Linked DNA regions of Homo sapiens. The protein of the gene in region 1 interacts with the protein of each later gene in a pairwise test. Each region holds a gene or a part of one and is shown in the gene's direction. Other genes may lie near its edges.

The links.
Region 2: the proteins of TCHP (region 1) and KRT32 interact in binary tests that used the Homo sapiens proteins (3 or more experiments, as listed by UniProt).
Region 3: the proteins of TCHP (region 1) and KRT34 interact in binary tests that used the Homo sapiens proteins (3 or more experiments, as listed by UniProt).
Region 4: the proteins of TCHP (region 1) and MIPOL1 interact in binary tests that used the Homo sapiens proteins (3 or more experiments, as listed by UniProt).

Annotation. Positions count from the first base shown.
Region 1 is NC_000012.12:109,910,274-109,913,773, forward strand, and holds part of TCHP (trichoplein keratin filament-binding protein), read left to right. Parts: intron 1-789; coding exon 790-962; intron 963-2,717; coding exon 2,718-2,799; intron 2,800-3,500. UniProt on the Homo sapiens protein: Tumor suppressor which has the ability to inhibit cell growth and be pro-apoptotic during cell stress. Inhibits cell growth in bladder and prostate cancer cells by a down-regulation of HSPB1 by inhibiting its phosphorylation.
Region 2 is NC_000017.11:41,464,587-41,468,756, reverse strand, and holds the start of KRT32 (keratin, type I cuticular Ha2), read left to right. Parts: upstream 1-1,370; 5' UTR 1,371-1,431; coding exon 1,432-1,899; intron 1,900-2,580; coding exon 2,581-2,663; intron 2,664-2,827; coding exon 2,828-2,984; exon of another isoform or gene 2,985-3,998; intron 3,999-4,170.
Region 3 is NC_000017.11:41,379,507-41,383,660, reverse strand, and holds the start of KRT34 (keratin, type I cuticular Ha4), read left to right. Parts: upstream 1-1,354; 5' UTR 1,355-1,410; coding exon of another isoform or gene 1,411-1,414; coding exon 1,415-1,762; intron 1,763-1,865; coding exon 1,866-1,948; intron 1,949-2,448; coding exon 2,449-2,605; intron 2,606-3,929; coding exon 3,930-4,091; intron 4,092-4,154.
Region 4 is NC_000014.9:37,204,437-37,207,936, forward strand, and holds part of MIPOL1 (mirror-image polydactyly gene 1 protein), read left to right. Parts: intron 1-3,500.

The DNA of each region.
Region 1 (3,500 bases):
ACTGCGGTCAGGGCAGGACATGGGGCACAGTGGCATGGTTGGTCCTGGTGTGCAGCTGTTTTTTATGGGGTCTTGCTCTGTTGTCCAGGCTGGATTGCAATGGCGCAATCACGGCTCACTGCAGCCTCAACCTGCCAGGCTCAAGCCATCCTCCCACCTCAGCCTCTCGAGTAGCTGGGACCATAGGTGTACATCACAATGCTTTGTAGAGATGGGGTCTTGCTACATTGCCCAGGCTGGTCTTGAACTCCTAGGCCCAAGTGATCCTCCCACCTCAGCCTCCCAAAGTGCTGGGATTGCATGCATTAGCCCCAGTGCCCAGCCTCCTGCATTATTTTAATGCTTCCATTATGTTGATGTACATAGTAGCTAATTCCCCACCAAGGAGCATTTTGGTTGTTTCTGGTTTTTCCCTCTTACCTAAAAGCTGCAACGAGTGTTTTGCACTTTTGTGTCACTGTGGTCTTTGTTCTTATAAGTGGGATTTTTGCCAAGTTGTATTCCAAAAAGTTGTGCAACCAGGTGTATCCGAGGGCATGTGGTGGTGGCTGGGTCTCCCTTTAGCCAGAGAGAAGCTCCTAGGCCTGTGCAGTGTCTGAACCACCCCTCGTGATTATCCCCAGTCTGTTCCAGAAATAATCCAGGATCTTCCCATCTCTGTCTTGAGAACACTGTGTAGAATCACGAATGTCTATGTAGAAAGGAAAGGGAGGGCAGGCCCCTCTGTAGGCTCTCATTGCAGAAGGACTCTGTCCAGCCCAGCCACGTGCCGCCCTCTGCTTCCTCTAGGAGGCAGACAGGCGGATCCTGCAGGCCCTCCTCGAGAAGGAGGACGAGAGCCAGCGCCTCCACCTGGCCAGGCGGGAGCAGGTCATGGCCGATGTGGCCTGGATGAAGCAGGCCATTGAGGAGCAGCTGCAGCTGGAGCGGGCGCGGGAGGCAGAGCTGCAGATGCTGCTGAGGTGAGTGGCAGCTGCTGACTGGGCTGGATGCTCCTGGCCTCAACTCTGATACCTTGAAATGCCCCATGGGTCACCTGTTACTGAAATATCTATTGGCTGGGCGTGGAGGCTCACACCTGTAATCCTAGCACTTTGAGAGGCCGAGGCAGGTGGATCGCTTGAGCCTAGGAATTTGAGATCAGCCTGGGCAACATGGCAAAACTCCAGGCTCTACCAAAAATACACAAATTGGCCAGGCGTGGTTGTTCATACCTGTAGTTCCAACTACTCGGGAGGCTAAGTGGGAGGATCACTTGAGCCCAGGAGGTTGGGGCTCCGATTAGCCATGACTACACCACTGCACTCCAGCCTGGGTGACAGAACGAGACTCTGTCTCAAAAAAAAAAAAAAAAAAAAAAGAAGAAGAAGAGATAGCTGTGTATGTTGTCCATCATTCCTGAGGAGCACATCTTCATAATGGACCTGGCCTCTGGGGGTGTTTCCCTTGTATTATCTGAGGTGGAAATCATTAAGGTTTAGAGTAACGATGTGTTCATCTGAAATCTTAGAGGTTTAGAAGGAAATTATTTTTTTTTTTTTGAGATAGAGTCTTGCTCTGTCACCCAGGCTGGAGTGCAGTGGCATGATCTCGGCTGACTGCAATCTCTGCCTCCTGGGTTCAAGTAATTCTCTGCCTCAGCCTCCCGAGTAGCTGGGATTACAGGCGCCCGCCACCACACCCGGCTACTTTTTGTATTTTTAGTAGAGATGGGGTTTCACCATCTTGGCCAGGCTGGTCTTGAACTCCTGACCTTGTGATCCGCCAGCGTTGGCCTCCCAAAGTGCTGGGATTACAGGCGTGAGCCACTATGCCCAGCCAGAAGGAAGTTATTATAGAGATGTTGAATGCTGCTTACATCTATAAAACTGAGTTTGGGTCCTAAAGACTAAACTAGTAGATTGAAATCATCAAATAATAAGTAGCATACATTGAGCACTTACTGCATGCTGGACACTGTGCCGGGTGCTTTACAGGCCTCATCTTACTGAGTCCTGACATCCAGCCAAGTGGTGGCTTGTGAGACCCGGAGACTTGAAGAGGTCACTCCGTCCAGGGTGAGCTATCAGTGACACAGGCATGCGGTGGCAGGGTTCAGGCACAGGCAGCGCCCTCCTCTCCATGTTCTGATGGTTTCATTCATCTCTGTGTTAAACAGCCACGGTGTAAGTCATCCCAATTCCTTTTTATAAGGAGATGGGGTATTAAAAGGGTAACTTAAAATACTTCCAACAGGGCCAGGCACGGTGGCTCACGCTTGTAATCCCAGCACTTTGGGAGGCCAAAGCAGGTAGATCACTTGAGATCAGGAGTTCAAGACCAGCCTGACCAACATGGTGAAACCCTGTCTCTACTAAAAATACAGTAATTGGCCAGACATGGTGGCACATGCCTGTAATCCCAGCTACTCAGGAGACTGAGGTACTAGAATCGATTGAACCTGGGAGGTGGAGGTTGCAGTGAGCCGAGATCGCACCACTGCACTCTAGCCTGGGCAACAGAGCGAGACCCATCTCAAAAATAAAAAAAATGAAAAACTTCCAACAGTACTTTCCGTGGATGCTGTCCTTAATTGTAATCTTTTCAAAGTGCATGTGGATGTTTATCTGCAGTGTGGTCCTGCAGAAGCCATGTGCCCTGCAGCCCTGTCTGTTCCGTAGCTCGCTTCCTGCCAGGGCGGGGAGGAGCCTGCTGTCATCCCTTTTGTGTTTGCCCAGGGAGGAGGCCAAGGAGATGTGGGAAAAGAGAGAGGCAGAGTGGGCCCGAGAGCGCAGCGCACGGGACAGACTGATGAGCGAGGTAATCCCAGCTGCGGCGATGTGGACCGGCTGTTGGGTCTTGGGCAGGTGTCTGGAAGTCCATGGTCAGTCACCCTGCCAGATGCTCTGGGAACAGAGTCTTCTCTGGTCATTTTAAGTGGGCTTTAAAAATCATTGAAAAAGTAATATGAGCTTAGTAGAAAAGAATTCAGAAGTACAGGAAGTAGAAATGGAAAAAAGTCCCCCAGAGCCCATCCTGTATGCAGCCGTAGCTGCTGCTTCTGTCTGCTCTTCTGTTTCTATGCCTGACATTTTTTCTACATGTATTTCTTACTGTCTTGTGCTATTTGGCTTCAAGCGTTGTGACATGCTGTTACATCTTTATAAACGGCATGTCAGGGGCTGTATCACGGACTGTCCTCTGTCACCCGCTGCCTTTCCATTCCCTCTTATGGGTGTGCTGTGTTGTTCTAATTGGAAGCCATTCTGAGAAACGCTGCAGAGAGCCTCTTGGTGCCTGAGGCTCTTCCCACACGTTTCCCCCCTCGGGGTAGATGACAGCCGTGACCTGGAGGACATAACTGCTTTCCTGGTCAGTGTGTACACTGTGCGTGGAAGATATACCCCAACCGCAGAGAAATCTGGGAGGAGAAGAGAGAGTGTTACCCATGGGCTGAAAGCTGTTGTAAAGTGGTTTCAAATGAGAAACTCTACGTTGTGTCTGGTAGTATGCTGTATTTT
Region 2 (4,170 bases), on another chromosome or scaffold:
CTGGGTGGCATTTTCCCTTTCCTGTTCTTGTACTGACATTTCTGGGAATATGTGAAACATAAGGCAAGTACTTATACCCCAAAATTATATCAAGAAGATTACTGAATAAAAAAGTGGCTATATAGCACACACATACTAAATGTGAAGCTCACAGCTTTTGCAGCCAGGACTGAAAACCACTGCTCTAGCATGTTGCCTTCTTAAGTGAATGCCCAGGGCTTCTATAGTTGGGCAAATATGCTCCCTGTCTCCTGGCTTAGCTCATTCCAGGGCTATAGAACATCCTTTCCCAAGGGAGTGGATTCACACTGCTTCCATAGTCTGAGATCCTGAAGTGAGCCTTCCCCATCTGCCACAACAGAAAGTAAAAGTAGAACCTGTTCCAACTATTCTCAGTCTGTTCAACAAACAATTATTGAGCACTTGACAATTGTGTATATGGTGCAGTGATAATTGAATGGATGGTCCAGAGGGGGTCAAGACAGAGCAGCTGCCACCTGGAGATGTTCATGATATGGACTTTTCCAAGAGGAAGAGACCAACTGGAAAGATGTACCTGATTCTTAGGCTTCTGTTTGGGTCTTTTTTTTTTTTTTTTTTTTGCCTTTTGAAGGGGTGCAGCATTCCTGGAGGTACTGCAATACCAGGTCAACATGTAGAGTGAACAGAGCAAGCTCTTATTCCATCTCCCTGCTCCCAAAATCCATTTAATATGTTGTCCTCAGATGGAGGACGTATCAGATATTAAGACGATAAGAACAGATACCACACTTGATCTTAGCCAAAAGGCTGAGAAGTGATGCTGCCTATGTCTTGAGTTCATTCTCTCCCCACTGATATTATTTTCTTCCCCTTGGCAGGAAGATGATGTCTGTTAGGAAGCCTCTGAGGTTCCTGTTCCTTTCTGCTGGATTTATGCCGCTGCCAGCATCGGAGCAGTTTCTACCACCCACACATTTCCTTGTTAAATAGCCAGGCCTCTTCCCATGGGGAATGCTTTCATTAAAAGAGGCAGCCACTGCTGCACAGACCTGCAGGCTTCTCAGGGCTAGAGCAGGCGGGGGTGCAGTGGGCAAAGCCAGTGGAGGCACAGGCTGGGTTGTGGCAGTCTCCTGGAGGGCCTGCCCTAGTAATGAGGGCCCAGGCATGCGGCTGACCCTTTGAAGATGTGTCCTGAAGCTCTCTCATGGTGATCAATGACAGGAACCCAGACTCCTGCTTTAGCCAAATGATAAGTTTGGCCTCTTTTATTGGAAACCAAATTACAAATTAATTAGCAGCTTCCTCTGGGGCTGGGTGTGAACATCAACACCACCCAATGATGAATTTCTATCATGAGCCCCCTCACTGCAAGGGCATAAAATGGCCCGGGCGGCATGGGGTCTGTAGACATCCAGGTAGCTGTGGCTGAGGAGAAAGGGCCTCTCCAACATGACATCCTCCTGCTGTGTCACCAACAACTTGCAAGCCTCTCTCAAGAGCTGCCCCCGGCCTGCCTCGGTCTGTTCCAGCGGCGTGAACTGCCGGCCTGAGCTGTGCCTGGGCTATGTCTGCCAGCCCATGGCATGCCTGCCTTCGGTCTGCCTGCCCACCACCTTCCGGCCAGCCAGCTGCCTCTCCAAAACCTATCTATCCAGTTCCTGCCAGGCAGCCAGTGGCATCTCCGGCTCCATGGGCCCCGGCAGCTGGTACAGCGAAGGGGCCTTCAATGGCAATGAGAAGGAAACCATGCAGTTCCTTAACGACCGCCTGGCCAGCTACCTGACGAGGGTGCGGCAGCTGGAGCAGGAGAATGCGGAGCTGGAGAGCAGGATCCAAGAGGCCTCTCACTCCCAGGTGCTCACCATGACTCCTGACTACCAGTCTCATTTCAGGACCATTGAGGAGCTCCAGCAGAAGGTGAGGGCAGCGGTGAGGTGAATAGGCTCTCTGGGAAGGGAACTGGACTAGCTGGCATTCCAGATTGGAATCTCGTTAGCTTATTAAGCTATGTTCAGGACAAAGAGACTTCCCTAGGGCATAGGGTTATTTTATAATTTGAGCACTCAGCCTGAGGCTTTCATGTGGAGAGATCTGGGATCTAGTCTCAGTTCTACCATTGCCTCATTGCATGACTTTGGGGGTCCCATCCCTTCCCCAGGCCTCAGTTTTCTCATCTGTAAAACAGGGATAATAATGGTCGTTATCTAATGGGGTTGTCAAAAGGATTTGATGAGATGATGCAGGTCAAGTGCTTGGAACAGCCCCTGGTCCACGGTAAGTTTTCAGTAAATGTCAAAGACCCTTCTAACTGTCACATGAGTGACTTCAGACATGAGATTCTTCCCTTCCACATTGCTTGGCACATCCAAAATGGGGAATTTGAATTTACGAAGCTTCAGGTTCTTAAAAAATACATCTCAAGTTCTCCAAGGACTAGCAATTCGCTAAATATCTCCCAGAGTTCCAGGGAAGAGGACCTTCTGCAGGGATGGCTGCAGGGCTGCTGGATCCTACCTTTGCTGCTGTCTTCTCTTCATTTGGGTTCTTCTTGCTTCGTCTCATCCTGAACTAACCCTCTCCATGTGCCTTGGCCTACAGATTCTGTGTACCAAGGCAGAGAATGCCAGGATGGTTGTGAACATTGATAATGCCAAACTGGCTGCCGATGACTTCAGGGCCAAGTGAGTTCAGTCGGGGGGCTGGAGCTGGGGAGGACCTGTCCTCATAGGCTCTGGGGCAACTTTCCATTAGTTTCACGGAGGGTTGGAAAGTGCCGGCAGTTTAAGGCCTTCCCTGAGTTCTGCATTCTGTTTCACCCTTGGTTGCTGACCCTGTCCTTGTGCAGGTACGAGGCAGAGCTGGCCATGCGGCAGCTGGTGGAGGCCGACATCAATGGCCTGCGCAGGATCCTGGATGATCTCACTCTGTGCAAGGCTGACCTGGAGGCCCAGGTTGAGTCCCTGAAGGAGGAGCTGATGTGCCTCAAAAAGAACCATGAGGAGGTGAGGCTGGAAGTCCCGCTGAAGTGGCCCCGGGAAGCAGAGGGGGAGGAACGTGGGGTATGGGGTTGGATAGGCGTGGGTTGAAATTCCCAAGCCTGCCACATGTTGTTTTAGTGACTTTGCCCAATTTATGGAATCTTCCTGAGCCTCCTCTTCTGTAAAATGGGGACAACATGATCACGCAGGGTTATTGTGAGGATTTAATGGACAGGATATGGATCATGGAAATCCCCAAGGCATGGGTATGAAACACCTGCCACTTGGTCAACTCTCAGAAGTGTAGCCCCCTTCCCTTCTGCATTTCCTGGGCTAGTGTGACTGCCAAGCACTCACTAGTGGCAACTGCATTTTTTTCTCTCGAGAGCCACACAGCAGAGGTAGAGTGGTGCAGTGGTGCCGGGGTGAGTTATGTTCCAGATCTCACGTTGAATGGCCTGTCCATCTCTGCCTGGCTCAACTCTCAGAAGCAGTCCCATCTCTTCTGAGAGGGAGTACAGCTGCAGTGGTCTCCTCTTTTTGCCCCTATCCTTATTTTGTCCTCCCTTCTGTTTGCATATAAAATGCTCAAGCTGAAGCCCTTTACTTTCTGATTTTTCCTTATCTCCTGAAGTTTCTTGGAGGGGAAGCCCTCTGCTTTGGGCACCTGTGTGCTGCCAAGCCCACCTGAGCCATGGTGTTTTTCCCCCCTCCCTGGTTGACTCTCAACCTCTTGACTTGGGATTTGAATGAACAAGTGCCTCTGAATCTTGGCTGGGTTTCCTCAGGCTTAAGTGTAAAGTAACAATCAGTCACCACGTACTCACCGAGCACCCTCGGGCTCCTGACTCATCTTGCTCAAATCAGAGAACTGGGAACGGCACCAAGAAGCCACTAATGAGAAGTTATCACACATCCTGGCAGACTCAGTGACAACTTTCCCTCTTTGGCAGCCAAGCCTGGGAGGCAGCTGCCCTAACTCGGGCCTTTAACTAGTCAAGCCAGGCTCCTGCTACCCTCCTCCCAGGATGAACACAGGTGGGGAGGGAGACTGGGAATACTAGGGGTACCGGTTTCCCATTTTAGCCCAAATGCATCAAACAAACCAGGGTGCTGCTCTTGGCTTCTGCCAAAGTGATAGGAAGTGTTGTGTTGCAGTGAGGTTCCCATCGCAGGGGTATTCAGCTGGAGTTTGAAGAGCACTGGGATG
Region 3 (4,154 bases), on another chromosome or scaffold:
AGCCACCATGGATACAAAGATACCTCTGAGCACCCTTGCTCCAATTTTCGTTTCTTGGTGAGTCTGCAGTATTATGCTTCATATTCATGCTTCAGTGCTGCCATCTGAACTCTCACTGCTCCAGACTGTTTCCAGCATATTTTTTCTTCTAGATATTTCTACTCTTGCTCATCTTTAGAGAGGCTGTTGCTTTAGTACAAGTTGGCAAATTTTTTAATTTTAGGGCTTTGTGGACACTATAGTCTCTGTCACAACTACACAACTCTGCCACTGTAGCACAAAAGCAGCCATATACAATAGCTAAACAAATGGGCATGGCTGTGTTCCATTAAAACTTTATTTACTGCCGGACGCATTGGCTCACGCCTGTAATCCCAGCACTTTGGGAGGCCGAGGCGGGCGGATCACGAGTTCAGGAGTTCAAGAGCAGCCTGGCCAACATGGTGAAACCCCATTTCTGCTAAAAACACAAAAATTAGCCGGGTGTGGTGGCGGGCACCTGTAATCCCAGCTACTCGGGGGGCTGAGGCAGATAATTGCTTGAACCCGGGAGGTGGAGGTTGCAGTGAGCCGAGATCGTGCCACTGCACTCCAGCCTGGGCGACAGAGTGAGACTCTGTCTCAAAAAAAAAAAAACAGAAAACAAACAAACAAAAACTTTATTTACAAAAATTCAGCAGGGTAAACTTGACGTGTGGGCTGCCATTTGCAGATGCCCTCTTTTAGGTATACTCCCATCCATTCCATTGGTTTCCATTTTACTTTCTCATTTCTCAACCATGAACATGCCATTGTTTTCAGTTGCTCCATGTGTTGGCAAGTTCCCTAAACCCCAACGAATAGTAAGGCTCAGGATCATTTCGGCGAATACAGGTTGAGTTTCTGCTATAAAAACAAATTGAATGCTGAAACATGGATGAATGTGGGAGGAAAGAGCTACTTGGAAGAGTAACTCTCAAAGCTCTCTCTCAGAGCTCTCTCTCTGGGGAGAAAGAACAGTGGCGGAAACTCCTGGGTGAGGAATCCCTGATTCCCAAACAACTCCACCCCATGTCCCTGGCTGTCCTCCCCTCTGAGTAATGCAGACAGCCTTTTGGGGCTGTGATGATTCTATCTCCTATGAAGCCATCTGATGAAACTCTGATTTCACCAACCACTAGCACCCAGGAAGAGCCTGGTGTGACATAAGCTGAATGGAATAATTTTATGGGTTGAGGGGGGACTCTTTAGAAGCATCTAACTAGCATATTTTGGAGAAAAATTAGCTGAAGCATTAGGAAAGGAAACTATGCTGTATGCCAAGCCCCCACCCACAATTAATGGTATAAAAGGACTGCAGAGGAAGGAGAGACTCAAACCTGCCCACATCCACCTCCAGCAGCTTACCTGCTTTTCCATTACCTGTTCCAGCACCATGTCTTACAGTTGTTGCCTGCCCAGCCTGGGCTGCCGCACCAGCTGCTCCTCCCGGCCCTGCGTGCCCCCCAGCTGCCACGGCTACACCCTGCCTGGGGCCTGCAACATCCCCGCCAATGTGAGCAACTGCAACTGGTTCTGTGAGGGCTCCTTCAATGGCAGCGAGAAGGAGACTATGCAGTTCCTGAACGACCGCCTGGCCAGCTACCTGGAGAAGGTGCGTCAGCTGGAGCGGGACAACGCGGAGCTGGAGAAACTCATCCAGGAGCGGTCCCAGCAGCAGGAGCCCTTGCTGTGCCCCAGCTACCAGTCCTACTTCAAGACCATTGAGGAGCTCCAGCAGAAGGTGAGGGGGTTGGCCATATGGGGGGCCAGCAGCAGCTGGCTCTCTTTGAACAGTAAGACATTTTCAAGTTCAAGTGTACCTCATGAGAGAAATTTCTTTTCAGATTCTGTGTGCCAAGGCTGAGAATGCCAGGCTGGTGGTGAACATTGACAATGCCAAGCTGGCCTCTGACGACTTCAGAAGCAAGTATGTTGAACTTCAAGGTCCCTATGGTTCTTTCATGGCCCTAGGGACCTACTATTGCCTGGAAGAGAGGAGAAAGCCATTTCTCTCTATTTCTCCTCCTAGGGCTGGTTATGTAAAATTAGTTTCAAATAGGGAACTAGACTCATGTGCTGCCTGCTCTTTGGTCTATACTGGTTTTTTTTGGAAGTGTTTCTTAAACCACAAAATTCAGAGATTGAAATGAATTGTTCTTTGGGAATTGATTTGGTGGTATATTAGCTAACAAAACCGAGAACACAGTGAGAGACTTCATCTCATGTGTGCCTGTGGGCTCCTCGTGGTGTTAGGTGAGTCAGGGAACCTCTTCAGCCTATCCATGGACAGCTTGACTGAAGCATATGGAAGAGAAGAGGCAGAAAACTGTAAGTTCAAGAAGATTCAGGCCAATTCTACCCAAACAACACATGAGAGGGGAAGGTGGTTTTCTTTCCTGACTTATCCTCCCACTCCGACACGTGCAGGTACCAGACGGAGCAGTCCCTGAGGCTGTTGGTGGAGTCGGACATCAACAGCATACGCAGGATCCTGGATGAGCTGACCCTCTGCAAGTCTGACCTGGAGTCCCAGGTGGAGTCCCTGAGGGAGGAGCTGATCTGCTTGAAGAAGAACCATGAGGAGGTATGAAACAAATTCACAAAAGCAGGCCTCAGAACTAAGCTACTAGCACTGGGAATCAGGAGAGGATTACTGTCTGGATCCCTGGTCTGGGACCCTTCTCTGAGGAACTCAAGATGTTCTCAGAGAGTGACGGTGCTACATCCATATCAAGGAGTGGAGTGAGCTGCTCATTCTTCAGCGGCTGGGTGAGGGTTAGGCAGGTGTTGGAATTACTGAGGAGGGACATCATTCATTGAGCCCTGCTCTCTGCTGATCACTGCTAGGTCCTGAATTTGGTGGTGGAGATGGAGGGACAAAAAAGAAATAAGACATGGCCCTTTTCTTAAAAGAGCTCACAGTCTAGTATAGAAAGACAGTCATATAAACACAGTGATATAAACAAGACAGAGTGAAACAAGTACCATATGAGATGTACAAGCAGTATGCTCTAGAAATAATCCAGGCTGCCCAAGAGGAGATAGGGAACTCTTCTCAGATGCAAAGAGGAGGATTCCAGTACTTGGGTGTTTCAGTCTGAGGGAAGAGGTTGAACAAAGACACAGAAGTGGCAGGGCAGGGTGTATCTGGGTATGGCTGGGCATGCAGTACCTCCAAGGGATGAAAGTGAAGATGTGATGGGAAGCGAGGAAGGACTTGCATATGCCAAGGAGTTTAGACTTAGTCTTGTAGAAGGTGTGAGGTTGTTTCCGTTTCTATGGGACAACAATTGACGTGATCCCTGTTGGAGTTTATTGCTATAAAATGTGTGTGTCACTCTTTGGGAATGATCAGAATCTTCCTTTTAGTGCTTTTTTTTTTTTGACGGAGTCATGCTCTGTCACCAGGCTGGAGTGCAGTGGCGTGATCTAGGCTCACTGTAACATCCGACTCCCTGGTTCAAGTGATTCACTTGCCTCAGCCTCCTGAGTAGCTGGGATTACAGGCACATGCCACCACGCCCAGCTAATTTTTGTATTGTTAGTAGAGATGGGGTTTCACCATGTTGGCTAGGATGGTTTCGATCTCCTGACTTCGTGATCCACCTGCCTCTGCCTCCCAAAGTGCTGGGATTACAGGCTTGAGCCACTGTGCCCGGCCCCTTTTAGTGCTTTCTGGGCAGCATCAAGCTCATTTTCCCAGAGCAGGAAGATGGCACATCTTCCATGGGACAGCAATTGATGTGATCCCTGTTGGAGTTTATTGCTATAAAATGTGTGTGTCACTCTTTGGGAATGATCAGAATATTCCTTTTAGTGCTTTTTGGGCAGTATTGTGCTCATTTCCCTGGAGCAGGAAAATGGCAGATCCATTGCCGTAGGTTCATTGTTTCCCTTTTCTCCAACAGGAGGTTAACACCCTGCGCTCCCAGCTTGGAGACCGCCTCAACGTGGAGGTGGACACTGCCCCCACTGTGGACCTGAACCAGGTCCTGAACGAGACCAGGAGTCAGTATGAGGCTCTGGTGGAAATTAACCGCAGGGAAGTGGAGCAATGGTTCGCCACGCAGGTGGGCATCTAAGCACATGGCCACTCAGGACCCGAGGTGCCCCAGGGCCCTGGAGACAGGGTC
Region 4 (3,500 bases), on another chromosome or scaffold:
TTCATGTTGTGGGAGGGATCCAGTGGGAGATAATTGAATCATGGGTGGTTTCTCTCATACCGTTCTCATGGTAGTGAATAAGTCCATGAGATGTGATGGTTTTATAAGGGGAAACCCCTTTTGCTTGGCTTTCATTCTTTTTTGCTGCCGCCATGTGAGATGTGCCTTTCACCTTTCACGATGATTGTGAGGCCTCCCAAGCCACGTGGAACTGCGAGCCCATTAAACCTCTTTCTTTTGTAAATTGCCTGGTCTCAAGTATGTCTTTATTAGCAGCGTGAAAACGGACTAACACAGTAAACAGACTAACACAGTAAATGGACTAATACAGTAGAGTGGGGTGCTGCTGAAAAGATACCTGAAAATGTGGAAGTGACTTTGAAACTGGGTAACAAGCAGAGGCTGGAATAGTTTGGAGGGCTCAGAAGAAGACAGGAAAATGTGGGAAAGTTTGGAACTTCCTGGAGACTTATTGAATGGCTTTGCCCAAAATGCTGATAGTGATATGGACAATAAAATCTAGGCTGAGGTGGTCTCAGATAGAAATGAGGAACTTGTTGAGAACTGTAGCAAAAGCAAAGAGACTGGCGGCATTTTGCTCCTGCCCCAGAGATTTGTCGAACTTTGAACTTGAGAGAGATGATTTAAGATATCTGATGGAATAAGTTTTTTGTTTTTTTTTTTGAGACGGAGTTTTGCTTTTATTGTCCAGGCTGGGGTGCAGTGACACGATCTCAGTTCACTGCAACCTCCACCTCTGGGTTCAAGTGATTCTCCTGCTTCAGCCTCCTGAGTAGCTGGGATTACAGGCATGCACTACCACGCCCAGCTAATTTTTTGTATTTTTAGTAGAGACAGGATTTCATCATGTTGGCCAGGCTGGTCTGGAACTCCTGACCTCAGGTGATCCACCCACCTCGGCCTCCCAAAGTGCAGGGATTACAGGTATAAGCCACTGCACCCAGCCAGTGGAAGAAATTTTTAAGCAACAAAGCTTTCAAGAGGTGACATGGCTGCTGTTAAAACACATTCAGTTTTTTTTTTTTAATACCTTAAGTTCTAGGGTACATGTACACAAAGTGCAGGTTTGATACATAGGTATATACATGTGCCATGTTGGTTTGCTGCATCCATCAACTCATCATTTACATTGGGTGTTTCTCCAAATGCTGTCCCCCGCCAGCTCCCCATCCCCCAACAGGCCCTGGTGTGTGATGTTGCCTACCCTGTGTCCAAGTGATCTCATTGTTCAGTTCCCACCTATGAGTGAGAACTTGCGGTGTTTGGTTTTCTGTCCTTGTGATAGTTTGCTCAGAATGATGGTTTCCAGCTTCATCCATGTCCCTGCAAAGGACATGATCTCATGCTTTTTTATGGCTGCATAGTATTCCATGGTGTAAATGTGCCACATTGTCTTAATCCAGTCTGTCATTGTTGGACATTTGGGTTGATTCCAAGTCTTTGCTGTTGTGAATAGTACCATATAAACATACATGTGCCTGAAACACATTCGGTTTTATAAGGGAAGCAGAGCATAAAAGTTCAGAAAATTTGCAGCCTGACCCTGCAATTGAAAAGAAAAACCCATTTTCTGAGGAGAAATTCAAGCCAGCTGCAGAAATTTGCCTAAGTAACAAGGAGCCAAATGTTCATCCCCAAGACAATGGGGAAAATGTCCCCAGGGTATGTCAGAGGTCTTCATGGCAGCCCCTCCCATCATAGGCCCAAAGGCCTAGGAGGAAAAAATGGTTTCATGGACCAAGCTTAGGGTCCCCATGCTATGTCCAAGGACTTGGTACCCTGTGTCCCAGACACGCCAGCCTTGGCTGAAAGGGGCCAATGTAGAGCTCAGGCCATGGCTTCAGAGTGCGCAGGCCCGAAGCCTTGGAAGCTTCCATGTGATGTTGAGCCTGTGAGTGCACCGAAGTCAAGAACTGGGGTTTGCAAATCTTCGCCTAGATTTAAGAGGATATATGGAAATGCCTGGATATCCAGGCAGAAGTTTGCTACAGGGATGGGGCCCTCATGGAGAACTTCTGGTAGGGCAGTGCATAAGGGAAATGTGGGATTGGATCCCCCACACAAAGTCCCTACTGGAGCACTGCCTAGTGGAACTGTGAGAAGGGGGCCACCATCCTCCAGACCCCAGAATGGTAGATCCACTGACAGCTTGCACCATGCTCCTGGAAAAGCCTCAGACACTCAACACTGATACGTGAAAGCAGCTGGGAGGGAGGCTGTACCCTGCAAAGCCACAGGGGCAGAGCTGCCCAAGATGTAGGAACCCACCTCTTGCATCAGTGTGACCTGCATGTGAGACATGGAGTCAAAGGAGATAATTTTGGAGCCTTAAGATTTGACTGTCCTGCTGGATTTTGGACTTGCATTGGGCCTATGGCCCCTTCATTTTGGCCAATTTCTCCCATTTGGAATGGCTGTATTTACCCAATGCCTGTACCCCCATTGTATCTAGGAACTAACTTGCTTTTGATTTTGCAGGCTCACAGGTGGAAAAGACTTGCCTTGTCTTGGATGAGACTTAGGGCTGTGGACTTTTGAGTTAATGCTGAAATGAGTTAAGACTTTGGGGGATTGTTGGGAAGACATGATTGGTTTTGAAATGTTAGGACATGAGATTTGGGAGGAACCAGGGGCGGAATGATATGGTTTGGCTGTATTCCCACTCAAATCTCATCTTGAATTGTAGCTCCCGTAATTCCCTCATGTGGTGGAAGGGACCCAGTGGGAGATACTTGAATCATGGGGGCAGTTCCCCCATACTGTTCTCCTGGTAGTGAATAAGTCCAGGTGAGTTCTGATGGTTTTATAGAACCCTTTCGCTTGGCTTTCATTCTCTCCTGCCACCACCATGTGAAATGTGCCTTTTACCTTCCATGATGATTGTGAGGCCTCTCGATCCATGTGGAACTGTGAGTCTATTAAACCTCTTTCTTTTGCAAATTGCCTAGTCTTGGGTATGTTTTCATCAGCAGTGTGAAAACAGACTAATATAGGTAGCAATAGACAACTACACTATTCATTAATATCAGAAAAGCTTTAATCTGTTTTTATCAGTTTAAACTTATTTGAGGATATGATATTATTATTATTATTATTATTATTTTTTGAGATGGAGTCTCTCTCTGTTGCTCAGGCTGGAGTGCAGTGGCACGATCTTGGCTCACTGCAACCTCTGCCTCCCAGGTTCATGCGATTCTTGTGCTTCAGCCTCCCGAGTAGCTGGGATTACAGGCACGTGCCATCATGCCTGGCTAATTTTTGTATTTTTAGTAGAGATGGGGTTTTACCACATTGGCCAGGCTGGTCTTGAACTCCTGACCTCAGGTGATCTACCCACCTCAGCCCCCCAAAGTGCTGGGATTACAGGTGTGAGCCACCATGCCAGGCTGAGGGCATGCTATTTTTATATCTTGAAAAACCAATTATTAACAGTTTTAACTATAAATCCCATACTTGTTTTTGGTTATAATTTAATTGCT